Homo sapiens: one gene and its partners. The protein of the gene in region 3 interacts with the protein of the main gene of each other region in a pairwise test. Each region holds a gene or a part of one and is shown on either strand. Other genes may lie near its edges. The genes, in order: GAD2, PTPN9, LIME1 and CLN6.

Region 1 (7,021 bases), on a different chromosome or scaffold from region 3:
AAAGTCCTCCAATCAGTGTAGGACTATAAAAGCTGACAGAACCAGATAATGATCAAGAATAAAAAAAATTAAAATAAGAAGATAAAGAACCAGAAACACAAGAGGTGATCAATAGACCAGCCCTTTTGATTCTTGTTTGGTAAACATTGGCACAGCCCACTTGCTGCCCCTCCCTGTGTCCAAGGCATGTGTGTGGCGTCACATCCTCATAGTGCCCCAAGCATTCATCATCTGCACTGCCTCAGGGACAAAGCGCCATCTGCAAGATCATAGTCCTGACAGAGCAGCAGGAAGCACACTGACTGGATTCTCGTGTTTACCACCCTCATGAAGATATGACTGTATTTGCTTTATTAATAACTTCTGTTATCCAGATATTTGTCCCCAAATAGTGCACTCTGGAAAAAGGCTTATGAGCCACTATTAGGTTTCCTAAATGTTGTTTCCCTTCCTTATTCTGGAATATGCCTAAGGTATTTGCTATAGACTGAATTTTTCTGTCCTCCCAAAATTTATATGTTGAAATCTTAACCCCTCAATGTGATGATATTAGGAGATAGGGCCTTTGGTAGGTGATTAGTTCAGGAAGGCACAGTCTTAGGGACCCCAGAGAGCTCCCTTGACCTCTTTCTGCCATGTGAGGATACAGGGAGAAAAAGGCCATTGACGAACCAGGAAGTAGGGGTTCCAGCAGACACGGAATCTACTGGCACCTTGATCTTGGACTTCCCCGCCTCTAGAACAGTGAGAAATAAATTTCTGTGCTTATAAGCTACCCAGTCTATATTAGTCTGTTTTTGCAGCTCAACCACGCTAAGATACAATTTTAGCTCAACAAACGATTTTTGAGTTCCTATTGTGCACTACAGCTATGAATCAGGCAAGATGGTACAGAGTAATTTCTCTGCCTTGTCTTGTCCAGAATTTAACTTTGTTCTTTTGGTTCACATAAACTGCACAGGAAACTCTGCATTTCCCCAAATTTTGAGTCTATATCGGCCTGGACCAACAGAACTCTGTGCAGTGATGGAGATGTTCTATATCTGCACTGTCCCATAAAACAGCCATTGGGCACAAGTTGAGTGACTGAAATGTGGCTAGTGTGATTGAAGAACCAAATTTTTGGTTGAATTTAATTTTAATTGATTTAAATTTAAATATGAATAGCCACATGTGGCTATTACTACCATACTGGACAGCATAGATTATTTCACCTCAGTTCTTTTCCCTCTGGGACTGTGTGTGTGTGTGTGTGTGTGTGTGTGTGTGTGTGTGTGCATGCGTATGAATATTTTACTGGTTCCTGGACATGATACTTTAAGGGCGTCACACTTAATAAAGAACTTTCCAGAAAGTCTGAAAAAATCATTGGCATACGTGAACAAAAGTTAAACTTGGTATTCATGTGGTTCTATTTTCATTTCCAAATCTGAATTGCTGAATTCTCTTGATTACAGTAATAAAATTGGAGAAAAATCAGGAGAATTCATTCTGCAATCCCCGGAGATTTTCATATTTGAATTGTCAACAGTATAAAAACAGTTTACTAATATTCTAATTGCCATCTCCAGGAAATAATCTCCATCCCCATTCTTCATTACAGCTCATATGAGGTGCTGAAACCTAGGAGGCATTTGAAGAGTGATATTTAAAAGGGGGAGCCTCCAAGTTGACTTTTGTTCAGAAAATGATGAAAAAAAAAAGTTTTTATTCTGTATTCCCATCTTGCTCCATCCCTCAGCCCAGTGATAATGGACTGATTCAACAAATGAAATCAGCCAAACTAGTCCATGGATTCTCTTTCTGGCCAGTCAGTTCAATAAGGAAGTGAAAGCCAAAAAGAATGGAGGCATCTAATTTCTAACTGGTTAAATAAGTCATTGTTAAGAAATTTTACATTATGAAGGTATACCATAAAAATTCCAGGAAAAATAAGAATTTTTTCCTCTCAAATGACAGCAGACACCCGCACCCCCTATTCTCGTTGTTATTGCCTGCACCGATCATCTTATCCAATGCGACCTCTACTCATTCCCTCCCACCCTGTGGGCTTGATTTCCTGGAATGAACCAACTTCACGAAATCATCAAACACAACCACAGCCCCTTCCATCTCAGACACATGCACCACGGATCCTGGTTCTAGAAGCTTTCTTCCATTTTTTCCTCTAGATCAGGGGTTCTCTAGCTGAGGTGCACATTGGAATCATCTAGATAACTTCCAGAATCATTCCCAGGCCCATCCAAGCACAATCTGATTACATTTTCAGGGTGAGACCTGGTCACTAGTGTCTTTTATGAAGTTTCTGGATGATTCTAATGTATGGCCAGGATTGCAAATCACTACTCTAATTAGGAGGCTTGGTTTAAAGACCTCAGCCATATGGAAGTTTCCTCCCGATGAGGAGTTTGATCTTGGGTTGCTTAAGGACAGATGTTAACACATAAAAGCTTTAGTGAAGGTTTTATATCTACACAAAATCCTCTTCTTCATTTTACGTAGAAGGAACTAAAGTGTTCCCAAAGGTCAGTGAGACAGCCCAAGCTCCTGAGCAGTGAGGGGACAGCCTGCGGGGCTCTTGGCAGTGACTGGAGGAGGTTCCCTCTTTTATGATAAATGAAAAGAACCCCCAAACCAACCAAATCAACTCTGAGATCCAAGTCTACATGACCATCCCTAGTTTCGAATGGGGGACAGGTCCTGCATATACCCCGCTTCGATGTGCACTGTAAACCCCATTTCACCCATGTATAAGTGCTGGGAGCAGGAGAGGATGAAAGATTAATGGTGTCTTACCACAGTACCATTTAAAGCTCAAGCCCTTAGGCTCGGATGCAGACTTTCTGCGAGATTTTGGGAGTTACATTTTCTCCCTGTGGGTCAGTTTCTCCATCAGCAAGATGGGTGGACAATCCTTCCCATGTCAGGTTGCTCTGAGGCTTTAAGTGACCTAACACCTGATATTGAGCTGGGACACAATGCACACTCAAAACAGTGGCTGTTATTATTGCTCTTTGCCCTCTTACCTTCTAGGGGTCACCACAGCTCTAAGGACACACCCAGGGTAGCCTTGACCTTGGCAGCTCAAGAGGGTCAGCAGCAGCGTTGTTTGCTAACCATTTCTGGTACCTAAAGTCTCTTTTGTGCTTGTAACTGAGCACCAGTTTCACTTGGAACATCAATGAACTTCAGCAACGTCCTTGTTGCTTTGTGAATGCCAGCAAAGGTTATCGCCTGACTACTTCTTTCAAGACATCATAAACTCACTCTCAGAAAACAAGCAAATAGAGTTGTTAAAAGTCTGCATAGGCCGGGCACAGTGGCTCATGCCTGTAATCTCAGCACTTTGGGAGGCCAAGGTGGGCAGATCACCTGAGGTCAGGAGTTCGAGACCAGCCTGGCCAACATATTGAAACCCCATCTCTACTAAAAATACAAAAATTGTCTGGGCGTGGTGGTGAGTGCCTGTATTCCCAGCTACTCGGGAGGCTGAGGCAGGAGAATCGCTTGAACCCGGGAGGTGGAGGATGCAGTGAGCTGAGATCACGCCACTGCACTGCAACCTGGAAGACACAGTGAGACTCCATCTCAAAAAAAAAAAAAAAAAAAAAAAGAAGAAAAATGTCTGCATATATCAGGCTCTATATGTCCTGGCTCTGTAGGAGTCCACAGACGGGAATGGGCCCATGTACCCAGGTAGGCTGTCTCCTAAGGCCACAGGCATATGTCATAAAGAAGATGTGCACATGAAAGGCTCAATACACACATGTATCAGAGGAGCTTGGAGCACTGACCTTCGAGAGGCGACTCATTCTCTCTTCATTGTCTTCCAGAGTACGCAAGCTTGGAGGAATGTACCAGAAGCAGACATTTGTGTGCTGAGGCTACAAAGAGGAAAGGAAGATTCACATTTGGCCCAGGCTGGCAATTTTGAAAATTCCAAGAACATTTCAAATCGATGTATTCAGCAGGTTCAGAACACAATTCCCACTTTTCAATCAGGAATTGCCATTGGAGGGCATGATTTTGACAACGTTATATGGACCACTTTGAGAGTTTCGTCTTTATTCCAGCTTGGAATAGCTACCCCGTCATCCACTGCTCCCCTCTGTAATCGTCCCACTTACCTGGACAGCACATCATTTACATCATATCAGTGATGAGGGTTGGAATTGACTAAACTTTCTGAGATTGTAGAAATCCAAATACATACCTTCCCATCAAACACCATCTCATATCCTTCTCGGTTTTTTATGATGTTGTATAAATACTCTGCCAACTCCAAACATTTATCAACATGCGCTTCAAACCCGGTAGTCCCCTAGGTAAGAGAAGGACACAGCTCATTAAGCAGGCTAAGAGTGCGGAGGAAGCGATTTCCCTGGAGACTGACCGTCATCCTGCCGTCTCTGTCTTAGCCCCGTCTGGCACTTTCTCAACACAAGGCTGTTTCCAAAGGCTTTTTCAGCGCTATTTTCTCTTCAATGCTCTCCCCGTCAGGTGCTTTTGTTCCCTTTCATTACTGCTTTCTACACGGAACTCCTTTTCTTCCAGAGCCTCCATTCCCCAGGCAATTAGTTTGACTACTCAAGAGGAAAATGTGCCTCTGCTATTCATAGGAATAATCATGGAAGTCATTAATAACAGGAGGGCTGAGCTACTCTCTTCCTGCAGATAAAAAGCATCACCAGAGACCCCCCAGAATGCCTGCTTAGTTCCCCTCCAACGTGCACATTTTCCATTCCCAGAGCCCATCTTTGTCTGCCAGTGTACCTGATACAGAAAAAATTGGGTAGGTGCTCACTGACTTCATTGAACAAATGGATGCAGGAATTTTAGGGAGCACCCAGATGCTTTGTTAGCCTGTCGAGCTCTGTACAGTTCTCCTTTGGGGGCAGATAAATGACTCACGTGTCTGTAATGGGTGAACATTATCACTGATTTCTTTTAGTTTCTGGCTCTGGAAGCTCTGAATCCAGACTTGGGAAAACCAACACAACAGTCTTGGACTGGAGCTGTTTAACTGACATCGGGACACACAAGAGAGTTACTTTTCAAAATGGCTTTCCTCTTATCTCCTTGGGTGTTTACTGGGTGCTGATGGAGAAAGCTTAAGAGTAAAAGCCAGTGCTCATCTCAGAAGCACTTTGAACCTGCCTACCAGTAACTTCTCCAGCAGAGAACCTAGAGAAAGCAATTGTAATGGAGATGAGATGGGCCCACTTGCCTGTTTCATACAAGATCACATCATCTCAGCTAAGGGGGCCCAACATAGCCCAGTGACTTGTGACATCTGAAGCAGGTTTAAGAACAAGCTGCCCTGGAGATATCAAATGGGTTCAGAAATTCACTTCTTTGGAGACTGCTCCCCCAGGTAATCGGCTCAAGGAGGCTGATGGGTTCCTGATGCCTCCCCAAGAAGAGCTTGGGCTGATGCCTGATGCTTGGCCAGCACCCATACCAGGAGCTCTCTGCATCTATGGGTGCTAAGGAGATTATAATTGGTTTGGAATGACCTGACAGTTTGGGTTCACTTGGGATGGACTGTAGGTAGAAGTGAGGGAAGCTAATTGCTCTTCTCCAACCTGGATCCTTTGGACCAGTCTGGAGTTGGGTTTAAACTTTTGCATATCTGATCTAGGATATGGCATGACCAGCTTGCCTCTGACCCTGTCCAGATGAATGGCTTTGGCCAACTCTCTGATCAGATGGGAATGATGATGCCTCTCTGATTTCCCATGAAGAAGAGTTTGCACTGCAACAGCAATGGGATTACTAAAGACCTCTGGTTCCCCTGGTCTGGGACCTTGCTATGGGGATGATCATGGGCCATGTGACTGCCCCTTTAGTTGGGGGCTAAAGATATACATGGGGAATGACACAGAAAACTCTAGTGTGCCCTGGGTGCCTCCCGTTCATATTGAATATTTATGGGATTAAGATCCACATTTTATTTTCAAGGTTTTGAAGGCTTTTAGGAGATTCTTCAAAATTCTTTCATTCATTAAATACTTCAGCAATCTCACCATCCAAGTGTTCAGCTGCTGCCTCTATGTGGTCTTGGGGTTTGACATCTTGAGAGCTGGTCATGATCATTCTCCACTTCTTGAAATGCTTTTATAAACATTCACAGGCCCCAGAGACAGTGCTTTTGAAATAACTACCGAATCCCTTGCTGTTATCTCAATTTTTGCTGCTATCACCCTAGTTCAGGCTCTGTTACTTTTCACCTGGAACATAGCTCCCAAGTCGCCCTTCAGTCAATTAGACTTTCCCTCACTTTCATAATATGCACTGAACTCCTGCTCAACCACTCCGTGGAATGGCCTTCTCACAGCACTGCTGGGTGAAATCCTACTTCTTCTACCTATCCTGTTCAAGTCCTATCTCAAAGGTCATCTCTTTGTGAATCATCTTGATTCTTAAACCAGGAATGAGCTCTCCGTCCTTTAAATTCCCCAGATGTGTCTGGATTTCTTTTGTGATCAGTCCTAATCTGTCTTTTATGATGGATTTCTGTGCATTTATCTTATCTTGTCTGGAAAATGAGAGCCTTCTTATCCCATTCAGTACTAGACACGATAATAGATGCTGAATATCTACTTGTTAAAATAAATTAATATTTTAGAGAGAAAGTAAACATTCATTTTCAGCAAAGGATGCCAGATGTCCATTTCCCTTTAATATTTTTTTCCTGGTATTTTTTTTCACAGCCATTTGCCAGTCCCTCTGTTATCCACATTTTTAATTAGAAAAGCTAATCATAAAAAAACCACAAGGAAAACTGACTATTTGTATGACTACATACAAACACAGAGATTTGCTATGAAACCTTGGTTGTTATAAATGAAGTTATTCCTGCAGGCCTGAAAAGGGAATGTAGGAGAATCGCTTGAACCTGGGAGATGGAGGCTGCAGTGAGCTGAGATCACGCCACTGCACTCCAGCCTGGGCAACAGAGCAAGACTCCATTTCAAAAAAAAAAAAAAAAAGGTGGGGGGGAGATGTAATTTTAAGTTTA
Region 2 (7,021 bases), on a different chromosome or scaffold from region 3:
AGCGATGCTGGGAAGCCTTGTTAATAATATAAAGCTTTTGTTCACTACATCGTCCTTTCAGAAGATGTATAACAGTGTCCCTAATTCCAGGAGTGAATTTTATATACATTCTGGGAGTTCACACTTTTATCTGGCAAATTCATAGGACTTAAATCTCAGGCAGATGAAATGTAGTCTACTACTTTTACAAGTATACCTTGTATTTCAAGAAAATCTTATCCCATCCTCCAAACCTGATATAAATACATTTATTCTTTGTCACTCTATATGCCTTTCCCTCCTCCCACATACTCACATGGTTCTTTCTAACCTTCCAGATTCAAATATTAAAGACATCTGAGGTCACGCAGCATCTGCCCAGGGAGTGTCTTCCAGAAAACCTGGGTGGGTACGTCAAAATTGATCTCGCCACTTGGAATTTCCAGTTCCTACCCCAGGTGAACGGCCACCCAGATCCCTTCGATGAGATCATCCTGTTCTCCCTCCCTCCTGCCTTAGACTGGGACTCAGTACATGTTCCAGGTCCCCATGCTATGACCATCCAAGAGTTGGTGGACTATGTTAATGCCAGGCAAAAGCAAGGAATCTATGAGGAATATGAAGACATTCGTCGTGAGAACCCTGTTGGCACTTTCCACTGTTCCATGTAAGTAGAAAAAGTTTGGGCCAGCAGCTGGTTACCAGGATGCTTCTGGTAGGCTCTGGCAACAGCTCCTTCCACCCCTCACTTGCTTAGCAGAGACCCTTCCTTATGTTAGGGAACATCACTCTCACATAAATGATGGTTTCTCGCATGCAGAAAGAGGTACTTTCTGCTTTGGTGCTTCTTTTTTTTTTTCTTTTTTTTTTAAATTTTTATTTTTTTTATTGATCATTCTTGGGTGTTTCTCGCAGAGGGGGATTTGGCAGGGTCATAGGACAATAGTGGAGGGAAGGTTGGCAGATAAACAAGTGAACAAAGGTCTCTGGTTTTCCTAGGCAGAGGACCCTGCGGCCTTCCGCAGTGTTTGTGTCCCTGGGTACTTGAGATTAGGGAGTGGTGATGATTCTTAACGAGCATGCTGCCTTCAAGCATCTGTTTAACAAAGCACATCTTGCACCGCCCTTAATCCATTTAACCCTGAGTGGACACAGCACATGTTTCAGAGAGCACAGGGTTGGGGGTAAGGTCACCGATCAACAGGATCCCAAGGCAGAAGAATTTATCTTAGTACAGAACAAAATGAAAAGTCTCCCATGTCTACTTTCTACACAGACACGGCAACCATCCGATTTCTCAATCTTTTCCCCACCTTTCCCCCCTTTCTATTCCACAAAACCGCCATTGTCATCCTGGCCCGTTCTCAATGAGCTGTTGGGTACACCTCCCAGACGAGGTGGTGGCTGGGCAGAGGGGCTCCTCACTTCCTAGTAGGGGTGGCTGGGCAGAGGTGCCCCTCACCTCCCGGACGGGGTGGCTGGCCAGACCCCCCCACCTCCCTCCCGGACGGGGCGGCTGGCCAGGCGGGGGGCTGACCCCCCCACCTCCCTCCCGGACGGGGCGGCTGGCCGGGCAGAGGGGCTCCTCACTTCCCAGTAGGGGCGGCCGGGCAGAGGCGCCCCTCACCTCCCGGGCGGGGGGCTGACCCCCCCACCTCCCTCCCGGACAGGGCGGCTGGCCGGGCGGGGGGCTGACCCCCCCACCTCCCTCCCAGACGGGGCGGCTGGCCGGGCAGAGGGGCTCCTCACTTCCCAGTAGGGGCGGCAGGGCAGAGGCGCCCCTCACCTCCTGGACGGGGCGGCTGGCTGGGCGGGGGGCTGACCCCCCCCACCTCCCTCCCGGACGTGGGGCTGACCCCTCCACCTCCCTCCCGGACCGGGCGGCTGGCCGGGCGGGGGGCTGATCCCCCCACCTCCCTCCCGGACGGGTCGGCTGGCCGGGCGGGGGGCTGAGCCCCCCACCTCCCTCCCGGACGGGGTGGCTGGCCCGGCAGAGGGGCTCCTCACTTCCCAGTAGGGGCGGCTGGGCAGAGGCGCCCCTCACCTCCCGGACGGGGCGGCTGGCCGGGCAGGGGGCTGACCTCACCTCCCTCCCGGACGGGGCGGCTGGCCGGGCGGGGGGCTGACCCCCCCGACCTCCCTCCCGGACATGGGGCTGACCCCCCCACCTCCCTCCCGGACGGGGCGGCTGTCCGGGCGGGGGGCTGACCTCCCCACCTCCCTCCCGGACGGGGCGGCTGTCCGGGCGGGGTGCTGATCCCCCCACCTCCCTCCCGGACGGGTCGGCTGGCCGGGCGGGGGGCTGAGCCCCCCACCTCCCTCCCGGACGGGGCGGCTGGCCCGGCAGAGGGGCTCCTCACTTCCCAGTAGGGGCGGCTGGGCAGAGGCGCCCCTCACCTCCCGGACGGGGCGGCTGGCCGGGCGGGGGGCTGACCCCACCTCCCTCCCGGACGGGGCGGCTGGCCGGGCGGAGGGCTGACCCCCCCTCACCTCCCTCCCGGACGGGGCGGCTGGCCGGGCGGGGGGCTGACCCCCCCACCTCCCTCCCGGACGGGGGGCTGACCCCCCCCCCACCTCCCTCCCGGATGGGGCGGCTGGCCGGGTTGGGGGCTGACTCCCCCACCTCCCTCCCGGACGGGGTGGCTGGCCAGGCAGAGGGGCTCCTCACTTCCCAGTAGGGGCGGCTGGGCAGAGGCGCCCCTCACCTCCCGGACGGGGCGGCTGGCCGGGCGGGGGGCTGACCCCCCCACCTCCCTCCCGGACGGAGCGGCTGGCCGGGCGGGGGGCTGACCCCCCCACCTCCCTCCCGGACGGGGCGGCTGCCGGGCGGAGACGCTCCTCACTTCCCAGACGGGGTGGCTGCCGGGCAGAGGGACTCCTCACTTCTCAGACGGGGCGGCTGCCGGGCGGAGGGGCTCCTCACTTCTCAGATGGGGCGGATGCTGGGCGGAGGGTCTCCTCACTTCTCAGACGGGGCGGCTGGGCAGAGACGCTCCTCACCTCCCAGACGGGGTCGCGACCGGGCAGAGGAGCTCCTCACATCCCAGACGGGGCAGCGGGGCAGAGGCGCTCCCCACATCTCAGACGATGGGCGGCCGGGCAGAGATGCTCCTCACTTCCCAGATGGGATGGCTGCCGGGAAGAGGCGCTCCTCACTTCCTAGATGGGATGGCGGCCGGGCAGAGACGCTCCTCACTTTCCAGACTGGGCAGCCAGGCAGAGGGGCTCCTCACGTCCCAGACGATGGGCGGCCAGGCAGAGACGCTCCTCACTTCCCAGACGGGGTGGTGGCCGGGCAGAGGCTGCAATCTCGGCACTTTGGGAGGCCAAGGCAGGCGGCTGGGAGATGGAGGTTGTAGTGAGCTGAGATCACGCCACTGCACTCCAGCCTGGGCACCATTGGGTGCTTCTTGCTAACATCCTATGCTCTGAAATTTCTGAAGGTCTTTGGTACCAACAGGATAACCCTGTTGGACATATTTTTGGATATTTTTCTGAAATGCAAGTTTTTTTTAAAAAAAGTAGGTTCAAAATAGGCTACTCTCTATTCCAGTACTCAGTGTGAGTGCTGGTCTGTTCATTTGGGCAGTTTCTCCCCATAACATTTATGGTATAACATTACTTCTTGAGGAGGGGTATGTGGTACACTTAAAATAATCCACAGTCAGAGAGTACAGTTGCCTCATAGGACTTTAACCCCTTGAGATTTTCATTCTACTCAAATCCTATCACAAAACCATCTCGCTAGTTTATAACTCTGGCTCGTAACTAGTTGATAACTATATATACATACATACATATATATATACACACCCACACACAAATTAGCTGGGTGTGGTGGCGCACACCTGTAATTCCTTCCTTCCTCCCTCCCTCTCTTTTTTTTTTCTTTCTGAGATGGAGTCTCGTTCTGTCACCCAGGCTGGAGTGCAATGGCACGATCTCGGCTCACTGCAACCTCCGCCTCCCAGGTTCAAGCGATTCTTCCTGCCTCACCCTCCCAAGTAGCTGGAATTATAGGCGCGCACCACCATGCCTGGCTAATTTTTGTATTTTTAGTAGAGACAGGGTTTCACGATGTTGTCCAGGTTGATCTTGAACTCCTGACCTCAGGTGATCTGCCTGCCTCAGCCTCCCGAAGTGCTGGGATTACAGGTATGATCTACCGCACCTGGCCTCTTTTTCTTTTTTCTCTTCTCTTCTTTTCTTCTTCTCTTCTCCTTTTCTTTTCTTTTATCCTTTTCTTTTCCTCAAATTCCTAGGTTAAAGCGATCCTCCTACTTCAGCCTCCTGAGTAGCTGGGACTACAGGTATGTGCCACTATGTCCAGCTCATTTTTTATTTTTTGAAGAGATGGGGTTTTGGCATGTTGCCCAGGCTGGTCTCAAACTCCGAGGCTCAAGTGATCCTCCTGCCTCAACCTCCCAAAGTGTTGGGATTACAGGTGTGAGCCACCGCACCTGGTCAGATTATTTCTCTTACCATGTTGCTGTCATTTCTCTTACCATGTTTTAATTGGCTGCCCCAGAAATCTCTTTCTCTCCAGCTAGTGAGCTGTGACTGTTGAAAACTACAGAAACTAGGGCTGGGGGCAGTGGCTCATGCCTATAATCCCAGCACTTTGGGAGTAAAGGTATAGGAGGATCATTTGTGCCCAGGAGTTTGAGACTAACCTGAGCAGCATAGCAAGACCCTACCTCTACAAAAATAAAAAACGAAAAAATTAGCCAGGCATGGTGGCACACTCCTGTTGTCCCAGCTATGCAGGAGGATCACTTGAGCCCGGGAGGTCAAGACCACAGTGAGTTATGATCACGCCACTGAGCTCCAGCCTAAGTGACAGAGTAAGACTTTGTCTAAGGAAAAAAAAAAAAAAAGAAAGAAAGAAAAGAAGAGGAAAAAAAAAAAAGAAAGAAAATGAGGGAAGCCATCCTAGTGGGTCCCAGCCTCATATTCCAACTTAACCAAAAATTCCCTCTGTGAGTGACACAAGTTATTTCCCTTCTCAGCACTTTGGTTTTCCTCTGTATAATATGTGACTACTGGACTCTGATATTCACCTACCTTTGTAGCTTAAATGTTTTAGAAATCTAGGATTCTGTGAGTACCTCTTCTCTCTTGTAACTCCTGTCCAGTGTAGTCAGTGTGTTCTGAATAAGATGCAGGGATAGAGTCTTTTAGCAAAGCAAAGAGGGAAAATAATGAGTTGGGGAAAATAATGAGATAGGGAAAGTAAGAGATAAGAGGCACTTGAGAAAGAAGTCAATCAGATCAAGAATGCAAAGGAAAATAAGAGGAGAAAAAGGGGACACAGACCATATATCAACAAGGGAAATTATTCTTTTCTCTCATACAGCTCTGTTTCTTCCCTACCAGCTCCAGACCCCTATTTTTATTTAATTTTTATTTCATTTTACTTATTGTATTTATTATTTTATTATTATTATTTTTTTTAGAGACAGGGTCTTGCTCTGTCCCCCAGACTGGCGCATAGTGGCATGATCATGGCTCACTGCAGCCTCCATCTCTTGATGCTCAATTGATCCTCCTGCCTCAGCCTCTTGAGTAGCTGAGACCACAGACATGCACCACCATGCCTGGCTAATTTTTTAAATTTTTTGTAGAGTCTCCCTATGTTGCCCAGGCTGGTCTTGAACCCCTGGGCTCAAGTGATCCTCCTGCCTCAGCCTTCCAAAGTGCTGGAATTATGGGTGCTACCTATACCCAACTACCAGACTCCCTGTTTATATCCAATCTCTTTTGCAAACAGAACAGTTATTCCCTTAAAGTCTTTTTTGTTGTTGTTGAGACAGTCTCACTCCATCACCCAGGCTGGAGTGCAATGGTATGATTTCGGCCCACTGCAACCTCCGCCTTGTGGGTTCAAGCCATTCTGTGCCTTAGTCTCCCAAGTAGATGGAATTACAGGTGTGTGCCACCACACCCAACTAATTTGTGTGTGTATATATATGTGTGTGTGTGTGTGTGTGTGTGTGTATGTATGTTTGTTTATTTATTTATTTATTTATTTTGAGACAGAGTCTCACTCTCGGCCAGGCTAGAGTGCAGTGCCACGATCTCAGCCCACTGCAACCTCCATCTCCCGGCTCAAGCAATTCTCCTGCCTCAGCCTCCTGAGTAGCTGGGATTACAGGCGTGTGCCACCACACCCGGTTAATTTTGTATTTTTAGTAGAGATGGGGTTTCACTGTGTTGGCCAGGCTGGTCTCAAACTCCTGACCTCGGGTGATTCGTCCTCCTTGGCTTCCCAAAGTGCTAGGATTACAGGCGTGAGCCACCATGCCTGGCCTAATTTGTGTATTTTTAGTAGAGATGGGGTTTTGCCATGTTGGCCAGGCTGATCTCGAACTCCTGACCTCAAGTGATCTGCCCACCTCAGCCCTGCAAAGTGCTGGGATTACAGGCATGAGCCACTATGCCCAGCCTCCCTTGCAGTCTTGAATCAAGGAAATATGTTGGAGCAGGGAGGCATGCTAGGCTGATCTAAGAGGATGCACACTTATCCTGGGGATTCTTCACCTTGCTCTCGGTGCTTTTGCAACTACCAGCTGCTGTGAGGCCCTTGAGATGTCATTTCTACTATGGAGTCTCCCCTCCTCCATTAAAAAAGTGGGTTTGGCTGGGCGCGGTGGCTCACGCCTGTAATCGCAGCACTTTGGGAGGTTGAGGCTGGCAGATCACGAGGTCAAGAGATTGAGAACATCCTGGCCAACATGGTGAAACCCCGTCTCTTCTAATAATACAAAAATTAGCTGGGTGTGGTGGCACGCACCTGTAGTCCCAGCTACTTGGGAGGCTGAGGCAGGAGAATCACTTGAGCCCAGGAGGCGGAGGTTGCTGTGAGCCAAGATCATGCCACCGCACTCCAGCCTGGGCGATAGAGCAAGACTCTGTCTCAAAAAAAAAAAAAAAAAAAAAAAAGTGGGTTTAGATCGTCTTGTTGCCATCATCCAAACCAGCTACCATTTGACAATCAGAGAACAGATCTCTCATCTAATGAGAGGACTTCCTAGTCTTGCCT
Region 3 (7,630 bases):
GGTCGCTCCCGCGCTGGCCTAGGGAGGGAGGCCCGGCCCGGCACAGCTCCGAGGCCTCCGCCCACCTCGCGCGCCCGCGCGCCCCGCCGGGGAGGGCCCGTTCCCCACGGGCGCGCTCGCAGAGCTGCCAGAGCCGGGGAAGGGGCCGCGATTGCTTGGCGGGCTTCCCGGCAGCAGGTTACTCTTTAACGCTCGACTGCCCACCTCCACCACCCCTTATGTAACACCAGGCTGGGTGGCGGAGCCCTCCCGTGGAGTCCAGGGTCCAAGTCCCACCCGGGGGCGGCCACCCTGCCGGCTGCGCTGCCCCCTAGGAGTGGCTGGGACCCCGTGCCCGCACTGACCGAGAGTCTGGCCGGCAGGAGCACCGCCTCGGCTAGGCCCGGGCGCCCCGGGGGCAGCCAGTCCCCCAAGGCCAGAGGGGACAGCTCCAAGCCTTCCAGAGAAGCCCCCCGCCCCAACCCGCCCAGCTTTCAAGAAGAGCAGGCTGCGAGGCTGGCCGCTTTCATCCTGCGCTGGCGCTTTATTTAGACGCGGGCCTTCTCTGGAGCCCGGGGAGGCCGCGGCTGTCAGAGCGGCCAGGACCTCACGGACCTCACGGGCTGGCAGCCCGGGGACCTGGGACTGGCGCTGTCAGCTGTGAGGCGGGGCGGGGCGGGGGACGGGCCTCACTCTGGAGGAAGGAGCACAGGTCCTTGAGTGTTCAGGGCAGGGAGGCAGGGAGGGGTCTCCAGCCCCTCCCTAGGCTGGGGCAGCTGGAAGCAGGGGGCGTCCCAGCCCCGCACGTGCTGCTCCTGCCAGCAGGGTCCCCCAGCTCCCGGATGCTCTCATACACGTTTTCCAGGGGGCCGCTGTCCACATCCAGGGCCCTGAGCGGGAGGGTCTGGTAGGCCAGGTCACCCGCCAGGGCCAGAATCGCTCCCTGGCCCTTGGGGTCCAGCGGGTCTGTGGTGGGTCCTGGGTCCCTCCTTTTAGGCTTGCAGACCCTGGAGTACAGGACGTCCACCTGGAGACAGGAAGCCAACCCGAGGAGGGGTCAGCACCATCCAACCTGCTGAGGATCTGCCGGCCCCACCCACAGCGCCCTACCCTGGCCCACGTTACCTGAGCGGCCGGGGTCACCTCAGTCTTCCCCTGCTGTGGCTCTTGGGGACTGCGATGGGTCCCTTTGCGCTTCTGGACGCGGGCATACTCGGCCACCACAGGGCTGGCCGCCAGGCTGACCCCGGGAAGGGCCGCCAGCCCCACGTTGGAATAGGTGGCCTCGAGGCCAGCGCACCCTGCGGTGGCTGCAGCTGCCGGCAGAGCCCGGGGCAGCTCCTGGTGTGGGAAGGCAGAGGGGGCTGCCTGCGGTCCGGTGATGTCCCTGGACACCTCCAGCCAGTGTGGGCGCAGGAGATCCATGCTGGCAGGCCGCAGGGCTGGGGGTGGGGTCAGGGCAGAGTTCACTCCGGGCAGGGGGCAGGAGCGGGTCTGGCCCAGGGGTTGGCACGCGCTGCACAGTAAGCCCCGCCCGGCCGCCCCCGCCCCGCCCTCTGCTCACCCCTGCTGCTGCGCGGGCCCCGGTGCAGCTCGTGCAGTCTGGTGTCCGACTTGCTGAGGGAGCAGAGGTGGGTCCGCCTCAGTAGGGACTGGGGGCGAGGAAGGCTGGTCGGTGCCCTGCGGACCCCACCCTGGTCCCCGGGACAGCCTGGCACTCACCGCTTCCGCCGCCGTCGCACTGCCCTGCAGCCTCGCCCGCTGCCTCCGCGCCCTCTTCCTGGGGGCTACAGCGTCCTCGGGCCTTGGGGGTAGAGGTGGGGGGCGGGGGGCGGGGTCGTCAGCCTCGGGTCCAAGGCCCGGTGCAGGCGCGCGTGCCGAGCTGGGTGCGCGGACCTGCCTCCAGCCCCTTCCCGCGCTGGGCTGTGAATGGCAGCCGCAGCGAGGCCCCAGACAGAACGCGGCTGAGGGACCTACCTGCGGCAGGCTGTGCACAGCGCCCACAGCGAGAGGAGCAGGGCGCAGCACCCTAGAACCCAGAGGGCAGGAGGGGCCCAGGACACTGGCAGCCCCATCCTGTGAAGCCGAGGCCCTGGGGACAGAAGAAAGGGGCGCTGGGGGCTGGCCAAGGGGACCTGGCGCCACCTGGCAGCCCCAAATCTGCACCTCCCGCGGCTGCGGGGCTCCTGCGTCTCCCGTTCCAGCTCTGACTCAGCACAGGAAGCCCCAAGGCCTGGCAGTCCCTCCCTCCCAGAGGTGCCCACCTTCTGGCGGGGGCTCCCGGTGAGGTGAACTAGGGCTGCTCTGCCTGGCCCCTCCGTGTCCCTGCGGGTGACCACGGTAACACCCAGCACGGCCGTGAGGAGGGGCAAGACAGCTGTGGCCACCATAGCCCAGATAGTAACCAGCATCGGGGGAGCCCCTGGGTGTGCGCCACAGGCCACAGACTCCACCTGCAGCCACCCTCTGCCCAGACATGGTCTCCTGTGTCAGGTAGTGCCCCCAAGCCGCTCGCTGCGGAGCCCAGAACTGGGAAGAGCTGGAGGCTGGTCAGCAGGAGGGACCCTGCACCCGGAGGAGCTGGAGGCTGGGTCAGCAGGCAGCAGCAGCTGCTGGGGGTGCTGATGCCCCCACCCCACTTCTCTCTGGCTCTTCTTGTCTGCCAGTGTCTCTGCCAGAGAGGATCTGTCCCCTTCTTGGGGATCTTAGCAGAACTTCTCGGGGTGGGGGATGCCTTACAAACAGCACAGTCCAGCAGCAGAGACAGAAGCTGGGGGGTGAGGGGTGGTCTCTGGAGTTTGGGGCCAGTCTGCTCAGACCCAGGGAGTGGGCTTCAGCCTGGCTGACTGACCCAGCTGCAGCCACATCCCAAGGCCTCCCAGACCCCAGCTGCCCCCCAGGAGGGCACTTACCAAGCCCACGGCCAGGGGTCCTCAGCTCTGTCTGGGGCAGGCCAGGAAGGTCTTTGTGCAGCCCTCGGCTGAGCTCCCCACCTCATCACTTCCTGCTCCTGTCGCCAAGCGCCTCCCCTGAGCCTCCCACCCTGGGCAGCAGCCACCACCGCAGCCTCACCCACCTGCTGCGCCCCGCCCGAAGCCTAGATGAAACGTGTGCGCCTCTAGCCCGCACTGTTCTGACAGCCTAACTCACAACCCCTCCACACACGAAGACGTGAGCAGAGCTGGCACAGAACCCCCAAACCCACAGGGCCAGGTCCGCCTGCCTCACCAAGAGTGCCCCACGTGGTGGGCCACAGTCCTCTCCCGCCCGTCTCGCCCGCTGGAGCAGCACTGAGCTCCACCCATCTGTGGGTGTCAGGCAGCCTGGCGGGCACCCTGGCCTCCGATCTGCCTTGGTCAGAGAAGGGTAAGAAGGGAGAATGCCGGCCTCCTAGGCCCCTCCAGCCCAGCCCGTCTCTCACCACAGCCCTGCACAGACCCTTCTCTCCCCAGAGACCCTGCAGCCAGCTGATCTCCACTGAATGACACTGTGATGAAATCACTTTAATGTCCTTGCCAAGGAAATGCCCAAGACACTGGCAGGTGGGCAAGTAAGTGTCCAGATGGGACCCCGCAGCTCTGTCTCCACTCAGCAGTGTCTGCACGCCCCAGGCCAGCAGGCCGGCCCCTCCTCGGGCAACACTGGTCTTCCTGAGGGCAGCCCGTGCTGGGGTCCCACGCTTCGTCCATAGTGCTTGTGGGGTCTCTAGAACTCAGTCATCTTCTTGTGGGTGTCTGCCTTCCTCTGCTCCTGCTGCAGGCCGGCTTCCTGAGCCCGGAGCTGCCCCAGCTGGCGCTGGGCTCCTGCCAGCTTCTCCTGCAGCTGGGCTGACGCCACGCTATGCCTGCGGAGGGGCTCACTAGTCAGCGTGGGGTCCTGGGCCATGCCACCAACCCCAGTCTGCCGTACCCACTGCCTGTGTGCCCGCTGCCCGTCCTCCAACATGCAGACCCCTCCTGGACTCAGCCCGCTATGCTTGGGTCAGGTGACCTCCAGCATGTATCCCGGGGGCAGGGCCACCCTGGGTCGCCCTTTGCCCTGAGCTGGGCCCCACACGTACCGGCCAGCGTTGCGGGCGAGAGCCTCCTGGATGCTCCTGATGTCCCGCTGGGTTCGCTCGATCTTCTCCTCAGTCTGGAAGAGCCGCAGGCTCAGGGCCCGCTTGGCACTCTTGCTGGCATGGTACATGTCCTTGCTCCTCCTCCCCGCTGGGGCCGCCCCGGCTTCTAGGGCCCCAGGAGCCTGACCTTGCAGCTTTTCATTGAGGAAGTCAAACACATTCCGAGGAGCTGGGCGGCCCCCAGGCCTGGCCCCTCTTCCCCGGCACCTGGGGGGCTTGTTGGTGCCAGCCTTGCCAACCCTGGTCTGCTTCTGCAGGGTCTCCACACACTGGTCCAGCGACTTCCCTCGAGGCAACACCACAGCATGGATGGGCTCCACCCGGCCTTCCGCGTGTCGGCCCAAACCTGCGGAGGCACGGGGATGGCAGTGCTGTGGCTGCGGGACCCCGGGAATCTGAGGAGCACGGGGATGGCAGTGCTGTGGCCACGGGACCCCGGGAATCTGAGGAGCACGGAGATGGCAGTGCTGTGGCCGTAGGACCCTGGGAATCTGAGGAGCACGGGGATGGCAGTGCTGTGGCCGCGGGACCCCGGGAATCTGAGGAGCACGGGGATGGCAGTGCTGTGGCTGCGGGACCCTGGGAACCCGATGGCTGCGGGACCCCGGGAACCTGATGGCTGCTGGACCTGGGCTATGCTGCAGCAGCCTGCCCACTTCTCCAGGGCAGCTTGTACTCACCCTTGCCAAACTCATAGCCCATCTTGGTGAGGAGTCTGGAGCCTATACCTCGCGTGTGCACCTCCCAGCCAGCAAAGGCAGAGCTGCAGGTCCCAGAGTCCACAGCATCTGACCCCACCACTGCAAGAGACGGACAGAGGGCAGAGGACTGTGCAGAGTCCACGGCGTCCGACCCCACCACTGCAAGAGATGGACAGAGGGCAGTGGCCCAGCCAGGCCAGAGGATTGTGCATGGTGACCCGGGCTTTGACCAATGAGCTCAGATCCTGGGCAGAGCCACGACACCCCACCTCTTGGGCTCCGTGCTCTCGTCACCGAGGCTGCTGTGGGCATGTGACACCAGGCAGAGTGCATGGCAGTCCCCACGGCCTGCTGCACCGTGGCCCCTCCTCCGCAGCCCTCTCCTGCCCCTGCCCTTCTCCACCTTCGCGAGGCTGTGAGCGCCTCACCTGCCCTCACAGAGTCCTTGGTTCAGTCCTCCTTCACCAGGGACATGGGGCTTCAGAAACCACCATCACTGATCCCTGGGTACACCTCCAACATGCAGACCCCTCCTGGACTCAGCCCGCCATGCTTGGGTCAGGTGACCTCCCACATATATACACACACACGCACACGCATACACACACCCCTCTGGAGAGCTGGACACTGCCCACCAGTTCCCATTCCCGAAACTTCCATGCTGGCTGTCTGGACACAACCTCTGTCTGCCAGGATCCCAGGCACCCAGGTCCCAAGTCTGAGAAGCCATGCAGAGGAGCTGCCCCTCCTGCACTCCAGGCCCCATCAGTTGGTCATTTTCTGTGACTTCCTCGGCAACTCCAGGCCCCTCCTCTCCCATGGCCACAGCCACGACCATGGCCTCCCATCAATGAGACTGTAGCTGTTGCACCCACACTCCTTGAAGATAAAGGCCGCCACGGATCTACCCCTACCCACACGGCCTCCTCAGGCACAGGTGGCACCCTCGCCGCAGTCACACACTCTCCAATAGTTTGGTTAGATGGTTGGTGCCCTCACCGGCCAGGAGCCTCTCAGGGTGACCCCACCTTCCTGGCTCCTGGGCTCCGCAGCTGCTGCCATACCTCTGGCATAGCTGGAGTCACCCGTACCGTCGCTGTCTGAGTCGGACTCTGTGGCCTCTGTGCGCAGTGGGGGCAGGATGCCGTCCCCCTCCACCACGGCCTCCCTCAGCAGCAGCGAGTCAAACTTGACTGTGTAGTAGCCGTTGTCCACATCTGGGGGCAGAGACAAGCTGCAGGTCAGAATCCTTGACAGCAGGTGCCACTGAAGGGAACCACCCTGGACATGAGGAGCAAGGCAGGGCAGAGGCTGAGGGTAGGTGTGCTCATTTCGGGCCCAGAGCCAGAGTCCCGACACTCAACCCAAAGGAAGCAGGGAGCAGCCACACAGTGACAACACACGTGGGGCCTGGGAGGGTGTTCCCGGGAGGCCCCCACGGCCAGCCTCACCGGTGATGCGTGCTGCGTGCCAGAGGCCATCCTGGTGCTTGGCCAGACACGCAGAGCCGGCCTGCAGGGAGCTCAGGTCTGGGTCCTGGAAGGGGCGCAGCTCATCCAGAGAGACCACCTGCCCATGGGAGAACCTGCAGACAGAGCCGTAAGGGGCAGGGCTCAGACATGGGCCACCAGGGGCAAACCAACCCAGGAGCACTGACCCATCCGCCTGGGCACTGTCCTGAGGGAGACAGACACACACGCGTGCGTATACATACACACTCTCACACACTCACGCACACACATACACACGCACACATACACACACACATGCACACACTCACGCACACATACACACATGCACATATACACACGCACATACAGATACACATGCACACATACACTCACACATACACATATATACACACTTGTGCATATACATGCAGGCATATACACACACATGCATATACACACGTACACATACACGCATACGCACACGCGCATATACACATGTACACACACATGCACTCACACAGGCACACACAAGTACACATACACACGCATAAACATGCACTCACATGCATACACACACGCATATACATACGTACACAGGCATACACACACATATACAGACATACACATATACACATACACAAGTACACATGTATACACATGCATACACACATGCACACAGGCATATACACATGTACACACACATTAACACATGTACTCACACGTCATACACATACACAGAGACCCTGACACGCGTATAAACATGCACTCACACATGAACTCATGCAAATACAGATGCAGTCATACATGGATATACGCACACGCCATCTCACCCACACGCGCGCACACGTGCCCTCACCCACACACATACGCCCTCACCCACACACATGCGCACACAAGCACCCTTACCTACACACATGCGCACACATCTCTCACCCACACACACGCACACACAGGCCCTCACCCACACACATGCGCGCACACACACCCTGACACATGCACACACACACCTCACCCACACACGTGCACACACATGCCCCCTCACCCACACACATGCACACACACACGCCCTCACCCACACACATGCGACCTCTCATCCACACACACGTGCACGCACACATGCACCCGCACCCAAACATGCACACACAGATGCACCCGCACCCACACATGCACACACATATGCAGTCACCCACACGCGCACACACATGCACCCTCACGTGTAGACTGTCACGTGCACTCACTCATATATGCATATACACATACATGCACACACATGGCATGCATATACACACATGCATATACACACTCACACTTGCATACACACGTAGTCTCTTGGTATCCATGGGAAACCCCCTGTGCAAACCAAAATCCAAGGATGCTCA
Region 4 (7,511 bases), on a different chromosome or scaffold from region 3:
TGCTGGGATTACAGGCATGAGCCACCACACCTGGCCAGTAGATCGTATCTCAAGGGTCGTGGTTTAATTAATACATGCAAAAACTTAAGAGCAGGGCCTGATCCATAAAAAGTGCTAGTGTTTTTTATTGTTATAAACATATTATTTGGAAATAGGAATTTGACTCTGGAAAAAAGAGCTAAAAGAAGCTAGGGTGATTGTCTCTGGTGCTAGGGAAGAGTGGGACAGGGATTACTACTTTTTAAAACTTGAAGCCTTTGCTATTTGATTTATCACGGGCACTAATTATAATACTTTCTTTTCTTTTCTTTTTTTACTTTTTTTTTTTTTTGAGACAGTCTCACTGTCATCCAGGCTGGAGTGCAGTGGCGCCATCTCGGCTCACTACAACCTCCGCCTCCCAGGCTCAAGGGATCCTGGTGCCTCAGCCTCCTGAGTAGCTGGGATTACAGGCATGGGCCATCACACCTGGATAATTTTTGTATTTTTTAGTAGAGACGGGGATTCTCCATGTTGGCCAGGCTGGTCTCGAACTCCTGGACTCAAGTGATCCACCCACCTTGGCCTCCCAAAGTGCTGGGATTACAGGCGTGAGCCATGGCACCCGGCCTAATTGTAACACTTTCATTATAATACAAAAACTGGCAACAAAGCAGGTGGACGTTGGAATGGGTTACCTTAAGAGGTAGTGAGCAAAGCACGGATGCAGCAGAGGAAATCCAAGCATCCTAGGAACTGGACAGGATGATTCTGCCTACTCTCTTGAGCAGCAATGATACTGGGAATGGGCTGAAGCCACATTGTGGGGGGCAGAGACACCCTGGGAGACAGAGAGCTCCCACCCTCACACCACCCCCCTGGGAATACCCTGGCTGGTGGGGAGCTCACACAGGGGAAGAGGGACATGACTCCTTAGCAGCCAAAGTGGAGTCGTAAGAGCAGAGCCCGTAAGTCAGAAACCCTGGGTTTAGGCCCTGGTTCTTGCCAGCAAATGATGTAACCTCTTTGGGCCTCCATTTCCCCATCTGTACATTGGAAGTGACATCTGGCAGCTCATTGTCAAGACTGAGTAAGATGCTAGACATGGGAGCCCCACACAGGAGATAAAGTGGTGACCCTATCTGAGACCCACAGGCTGTTCCCATTGGGCTGTCACAGTTCAGGGCAGTCAGTGACCCCCAACTTGGCAAGGATTCGGAACAGAGACATCCCGCAGGCAGAAGAGGCTGCCTGGAAGAGGGGAGCTGGTAAATGGGTTGGGTCACAGCAGAGATGAAACCACTGGACACGGCGTGGGGCAGACAGCCCGGGGACTCAGCCAGTCAGGCTCCTCAGCCCATCTAAGCCTATTTCCTCATCAGTAAAATAATACTTAACTCACAGGCCGAGGGAGACAGGTGAGCTACAGTATGCGGTCTATGGCCAGTACATTGTTTCTAAGTGAAAACGGACACAGTCCGCAGCTGCTCAGCCCGCATGTCCGCAGCAGCAGAAACGAGCCATCCCTCACCTCAGCCCAAGCGCTCAGACTTCTCCCTTCATCCAGGTCGTACCAAAAACTTCCTAACAAGGACTTTGCGCATGCTAGTGCTCAGAAACTTCTCACGACTCCCCAGTGCCTATGGGATAAAGACTGTGTCCTTAACCTGTCACCTAGGACAGGAACTAGGGTGAGACAAGCAAGGCCTCCAAGGCCCAACATTTGAGGCGGCACTCACGGTCACGGCAGTGCGCCTACCCCTAAGTTTTGCAATCTAGGTCCTCAACTCGAGTCCTAGACTTGCTGCAATTAAAGGCCCTTCACAATCAGTCTGCATCCTCCTGTCACTTTCTTTTACAGCCGGAAAGCTCCAGCACCACTAAACTCCTTGCCCTTCCCCACTGTTTCCCTGGATGGAACAGCCTGTCTTCCCTGGGTCCCCTACCAAGTCCTCTGAGACTCAGCTCAAGTGCCACTTCCTCCATGAAGCCCTCCAAGATGACCGCTCACTCCCACTTGGGCTCTGTCTCTCCTGATCCCTACAGGACCGTAAGCCTCTCCCACCTTCACCCTGCCTACCCCCTTACTGCCTGGCACAGCGCTGGGCATACCACAGGCGCTTAAAGAATGCCTGCTGAATGCAGTGAATGTTTCTGGTCAGTAAAACGGGACGAAGGTAGAATGGAGCTCTGCTCGCCCAACGAGATAAACCAAAAACTGAGAAGGGCTCCTCATTCATTCTCTGGACGGCAGCTTCCGCCCTTCCCCGCTGTCTCTTCCATTACATTCGCACATTCTTGGGTGCCCCAGGTCAAGCAGACAGCCTCCTGATAAATGACAGAATCAAGTCCTACTCAGGGCTGGAGGGACCCCGAGAACGCGGAGGTGGCGCCCGGAACTTGCGGATAAGTTGGGGGTCCGAGTGACGAGGTGTGTGTACCCACCGCCCTGGGGAGCTCTCCCAGCGCAGCGGCTGTCCCGGCGCCAGCCCGGGTCGCTGGAACGCGGGAAGGGAGGAAAACCCCAAACTTCGGGCGGGCGCTCCTCCCACCCGAGCAACGGCGAAGCGGGGAGGCCGAGCCCCGCTGGGCCCCAGGCTCCCCAGACAGAGAAGGAAACGCGGGGGCACCGCCGCCACGGTAGCGCGCCTCCAAGCCCCCCGCGCTCCGCTCCGCCCCGGCCAGCGCCGCACACGAGGTTCCCGCCCGGCAGCCCTAGGAGCGTCACGTGGCGGGTCCCGAGGCCCCAGCGCACAGGCGCCTAGCCCGCCCTCTCACCCCGGCGCGCGCCCACCTGGCCTGCAGGAAGGAGGCGCCCAGCTGCGCGCCTGGGCCGCCCGTCGCTCCCAGGTGCTGCCGCCTCCGCGTCGCCTCCATGGCTGCCCCGCAGGCCCCTCGGCCCTGCCTTTCCGAGGAAGAGACCGGTTCAGCTCGGCTGCCCCGGCGGAGGCCGCCGCAAATTCCCAGCGCGGGGCGGTTCGGGGCGGGCCGGCGAGAGCGCGCGGCCCTCGGGAGGAACAGGCGGGGCTGCGGACCCGGGGCGGGGCGGAGCGGAGCGGAGCGGAGCGGAGGGAGGCGGGGCGGAGGGAGACGGGGCGGGCTCCGCTAGGGGAGGGCCGGGCGCTGCGAGTGTGGCGTCCTCGCGGGGCGGGGGCTGCTGGCCTGTCCGGGCTGCGCGCGTGACCACCAGCGGGCTGGGATGTGTTAGGGTCCCTTGCCTGCCTGGGTACGGGAATCTCTGTCTAGGGTGACTGAGGCCTGGGTGTTGGGCTGGGGCGGGGTAGCGACCTGGAGATAGACTAAGCTGATTTAAATGCTCCCCGGGGCAGAGGGTTCTGTGGGATTTCCCTTGTTCTTACGGGTGGAGGAGAGGAGGCAGGACTGGAGACCTGCACGTGTAGCACCCGCGTGGTGCAGCACGTGGGTTGCAGATGTTCTAGTGAGGGGCTGGCGGTGACAGTGGGAAGGAGCGAGTTGGTGACATCTAGAGTCGTGTGAGAGGTATGGTGACTGGGACTCTGGATGTGGGGGGTGAGGGGAGAAGAGTTCAGGCAGTGGCCGGATTCTGCCCCTGGGTGGATAGTGGAGGCACCCCCCGGGAAGTGGGCTAGAGCAGATTTCGTGTAAATAAAGATTCATCTTTGAACGCATTAAGCTTGAGGTGGGTCAGGAAGGCTGTTGGACCGGTGGTCTGAAGCTGAGGCGAGACCTGGGAACCCAGTGGACAGGCTCGTGAGTCACCGGAGCATACAAGACAGACAGAACCTAAGGGGACAGCATCCTCAAGTGAAAAACAGAACCAAAGGTCAAACCTGAGAACAGCCTGCAGGGCAGATTGCCAGGACTTCATTAGTGGTACCACTTTGAACTAGCTGTGATGCGGGCAAATGGCTCAACCCCTCACAGCTTCAGTTTACTCATCTGTAACAAGAAGATGCCTATTGCATCTACTACATTGGAGTTGTGATGACTATATGAAACTCTTAGCAGAGAGCCCAGCACTGGTGGACTAAGTTATTTACAATAGCCCGTCTCGAGACCTGAGGTTTCCCTCCACAGAAAGGTTACCTTCCACACCACTGTCAATGTCACAAACTCTCTCCTCCCCACGGTCACTGTCAGCAGCCCAGGCCGCTAACTAGAACAACTGCAACCAACTCCCATTCTCCCCACCACCCCCGTGCTACACCAGGCGCACACGACATGTGCAGGTCTCCAGTCCTGTCTCCTCTCACCCAGCCCTCAAGCCGCTGCAGAAGGGATGTGCCTCTTGGAAGGGATGTGCCTCAGATGCAAATGCAATGTGCCATTCCCCTGCCCAGTATCCTTGGTCTGCTTCCCAGACCATGAGGGGTCTGAGCTATGCCTATTTCCATTCTATTTTCTTTCCTGTCTTTCTTCTTGGGAGATGTTTATTGGATTTATTTCTTTCCCCTTTGGTCAGAACCTGCATGTCCTTTCTTGGCTGTGGGAGGCTAGGACTGCCTGCCTGGGAGTCATTTTCCATCAGCCCCATCCTGGGCTCTAGCAGCCCACAGGCCACACCTCAATCCCCCCCCTCCGCCCCTGGTCCCCTGAAGAACACATTTGCTTTAAAGCTTTCCTTGTTTCATTTGATCCACACACACCAGGTCGTAAGGAGAACAGGTGATTGTCTCTGTTTTGTAGCAGAGAAAAACCTAGGCCCTGAGCTGAAGTACTGTGCCCAAGGGTCAGCCAAGGACAGCACTCAGACGGGGCCCCAGATTTAATTCTGGTGAATCTGATCTACACATCGATCTCGGTATACACCAGAGAAGAAGGATTGAGGCTTCCCGCTCTGACCCCAATTTCTTATCCTCTGCAGGCTTTGCAAGCCTGCTGGGCTCCAGAGGGAGGGGCATGCAGTGCCCATGATGTCATCATCGATTTAATAACACTCAGAGGTGGGCTTCCAGCCATCAGAGGATGAGGCCGTGTGGAGGGAGCCTCTCTAGCTCATTTAATCCTCCAATCTCTTAAATACAAACACATCTGCCTTTTTTCTGGAGTCCGCTGCTACCCCTTGAGGGGAGGGGAGTCCAACCTGGCAGGGGGCTGGGCCTTTCTGAATGAACAAGATGAGAATTCTCCCTGTCCGGTGGGATTATCAGCCCCCTCTCTTTCCCATCCCACCAGGACACTTTAAAAACACCATCTTCATTAGCTCTTTAAATTGCATGGAAATTTGGGGGAGGAGGATAGAGTAAAGCTGAGGGGTACACATTTGCAGGATCTTGTTTGTGATTATCTGAGAACATGGGCCCTGCACATCAGAAGGGAGTCTAGTCTCAGCTCTCTGAGCTGCAATTTCAGTGGCCAGCATCAAGAAATCTTTCAGCTGAGAAGGTCCTTTGGTATTATGCATCTTGGTGGTTTTGACTTTTCTTTTAGTAGAGGTTCCCACTACTTTTCAATTATAGCTGTATCCGATATTTTTTTTTTTTTTTGAGACGGAGTCTTGCTCTGTCGCCCAGGCTGGAGTGCAATGGCACGATCTCGGCTTGCTGCAACCTCTGCCTCCCTGGTTCAAGTGATTCTCCTGCCTCACCCTCCCAAGTAGCTGGGACTACAGGCATGCACCACCACGCCTGGCTAATTTTTTATATTTTTAGTAGAGACGGGGTTTCACCATGTTAGCCAGGCTGGTCTTGATCTACTGACCTTGTGATCTGCCCGCCTTAGTCTCTCAAAGTGCTGGGATTGCAGGCGTGAGCCACTGCACCAGGCCTGTATCAGATACTTTTAAATGTATCGCCTAAGATCCGTTAGACACACCAGTCTTCCAGCTCCTTGCCACTTGTTTTGTCCAGCTGCTGTGACAACTGACTTCACCCAGGCAGAAGTCAACTGCACCTCCTCTCCCCTTGGCCCCACACCCTTGGCCTCAGAAGTGCAGGAGTGTTGGACACTCCATGGAGTGAACTTTGACCAGCAAGAGACAGGGATTAGCAAATAAATTTTTCTCTCTTCCTCTTTCTGGACAGACTGGCCTGAGTTCCGAGTTCACACAGCCACTTTAAAGAAGGTCCTGGGCCATGCGCAGTGGCTCACACCTGTAATCCCAGCACGTTGGGAGGCCAAGGTGGGTGGACCACGTGAGGTCAGGAGTTCAAGACCAGCCTGACCAACATGGTGAAACCCTGTCTCTACTAAAAATACAAAAACGAACTGGGTGTCGTGGCATGTGCCTGTAATCCCAGCTACTTGGGAGGCTGAGGCAGGAGAAATTGCATGAACCCAGGAGGCAGAGGTTGCAGTGAGCCGAGATCACGCCACTGCACTCTAGTCTGGGCGACAGAGCAAGGCTCAGTCTCAAAATAAATAAATAAATAATAAAGAAGGTCCTGTAAGGTCTAGCATCCTTCCAGACGGAGTGGTGGCCAGCTCCGCAGTGCACTCTCTTGTGTGCCCTCCCTTCTCCTCTGTCTCACTCCCCCTTGTCCTCACTTCCCCTTCCCAGCCACCACACTCCCCAATACAGTGTTAGCATACATGCTGCCCTGCTCTGCTTCTTTGGAAACCTGGGCTAAGACAAAGATCTTTCCAGCATGCTCAATGTATGAAACACCTACGGGGGGGTGGGGGGGGTGGTGCCCTGAGTGAAGAGAAGCAGGGTCCCAGGTGCCATCTCTTCTCCCCTTATGGTTACAAGGCCGTGGCCAAGTCACCTCCAAAGGGCTCCCTGGAAAGCCTTTGATCTTGCCTAATTTCATCATTCTGCAGCTGCGGAAAATGAAGCCTAAAGCCACACAGCGAGTTAGAAGCCAAGCCAGGCCAGAATCCAGTCTCCACTCCTAATCCAGTACCCTTTCTATCCAGTCTCTTAAGAGCTTTTGAAAATTTCTCTTTCTTCAAAACATCTTCCCACACTGCCCTGCCACCAGAAGGCTTTGAAGGCCCCTGCTAGACTGCAGCTACCATCTGAGAGACATGACACACAGAATCCTGGATCCAGAGGCTGGGACTCCAGAAGGCAGACAGACGAAGTGGGACCAGGAAAACTCAGTTACTTTGGAGAGAGGCAGCCAGGAGGGGCCTGACTAGGGGATCTCTAAGTGTGGGCAACAAGACTGTGCACAGTGAGAAGGCTGCACAAGGACAGACAGCAAGGGACTGGGGCACTGGGGGAAGATGGAGACTGTCTTTCTGTGTCAACTGGTATTGCCTGCAGGACACTCCCCATCTGGCTGAAGAAGCTGGGAGGGTGACCAGAAGTCACACTGTGGGGAGAGAGAAGGTCCCCAGGTTGTGTTTAATTCAGATTCTTGTGGTTGTGATTACTAGAAGCAACGGGGGACAGGTTGATGACAAAAGGGGATTTCTATTACAAGGATTTAGGGGTGTCTTAGGGAACCTAAGCATAAGGATGCAGTTGGGCCTCAGGAACTGAGAATGGTGCTGGGACTTTGGGAGCCCAGGAAGGCACCACCCACAACACTGTTTCCATGTCATCCTTCTCTCTTTCTCCCTGCAGACTGGCTTTCCTGGCTTTCCAGGAAATACAGCAGCCG

The links.
Region 1: the proteins of LIME1 (region 3) and GAD2 interact in binary tests that used the Homo sapiens proteins (3 or more experiments, as listed by UniProt).
Region 2: the proteins of LIME1 (region 3) and PTPN9 interact in binary tests that used the Homo sapiens proteins (3 or more experiments, as listed by UniProt).
Region 4: the proteins of LIME1 (region 3) and CLN6 interact in binary tests that used the Homo sapiens proteins (3 or more experiments, as listed by UniProt).

Annotation. Positions count from the first base shown.
Region 1 is NC_000010.11:26,289,765-26,296,785, reverse strand, and holds part of GAD2 (glutamate decarboxylase 2), read right to left. Parts: intron 4,322-7,021; coding exon 4,214-4,321; intron 3,885-4,213; coding exon 3,795-3,884; intron 1-3,794. UniProt on the Homo sapiens protein: Catalyzes the production of GABA.
Region 2 is NC_000015.10:75,499,300-75,506,320, reverse strand, and holds part of PTPN9 (tyrosine-protein phosphatase non-receptor type 9), read left to right. Parts: intron 1-317; coding exon 318-646; intron 647-3,281; exon of another isoform or gene 3,282-3,318; intron 3,319-6,931; exon of another isoform or gene 6,932-7,021. UniProt on the Homo sapiens protein: Protein-tyrosine phosphatase that could participate in the transfer of hydrophobic ligands or in functions of the Golgi apparatus.
Region 3 is NC_000020.11:63,731,974-63,739,603, reverse strand, and holds LIME1 (lck-interacting transmembrane adapter 1), read right to left. Parts: upstream 2,941-7,630; 5' UTR 2,892-2,940; intron 2,072-2,891; 5' UTR 2,055-2,071; coding exon 1,957-2,054; intron 1,784-1,956; coding exon 1,702-1,783; intron 1,632-1,701; coding exon 1,544-1,631; intron 1,422-1,543; coding exon 1,105-1,421; intron 1,007-1,104; coding exon 704-1,006; 3' UTR 501-703; downstream 1-500. Other genes in the region: ZGPAT (zinc finger CCCH-type with G patch domain-containing protein), read right to left, coding at 3,685-3,823, 4,040-4,445, 4,780-4,959, 5,865-6,017, 6,252-6,385.
Region 4 is NC_000015.10:68,226,729-68,234,239, forward strand, and holds the start of CLN6 (ceroid-lipofuscinosis neuronal protein 6), read right to left. Parts: upstream 3,001-7,511; 5' UTR 2,857-3,000; coding exon 2,774-2,856; intron 1-2,773.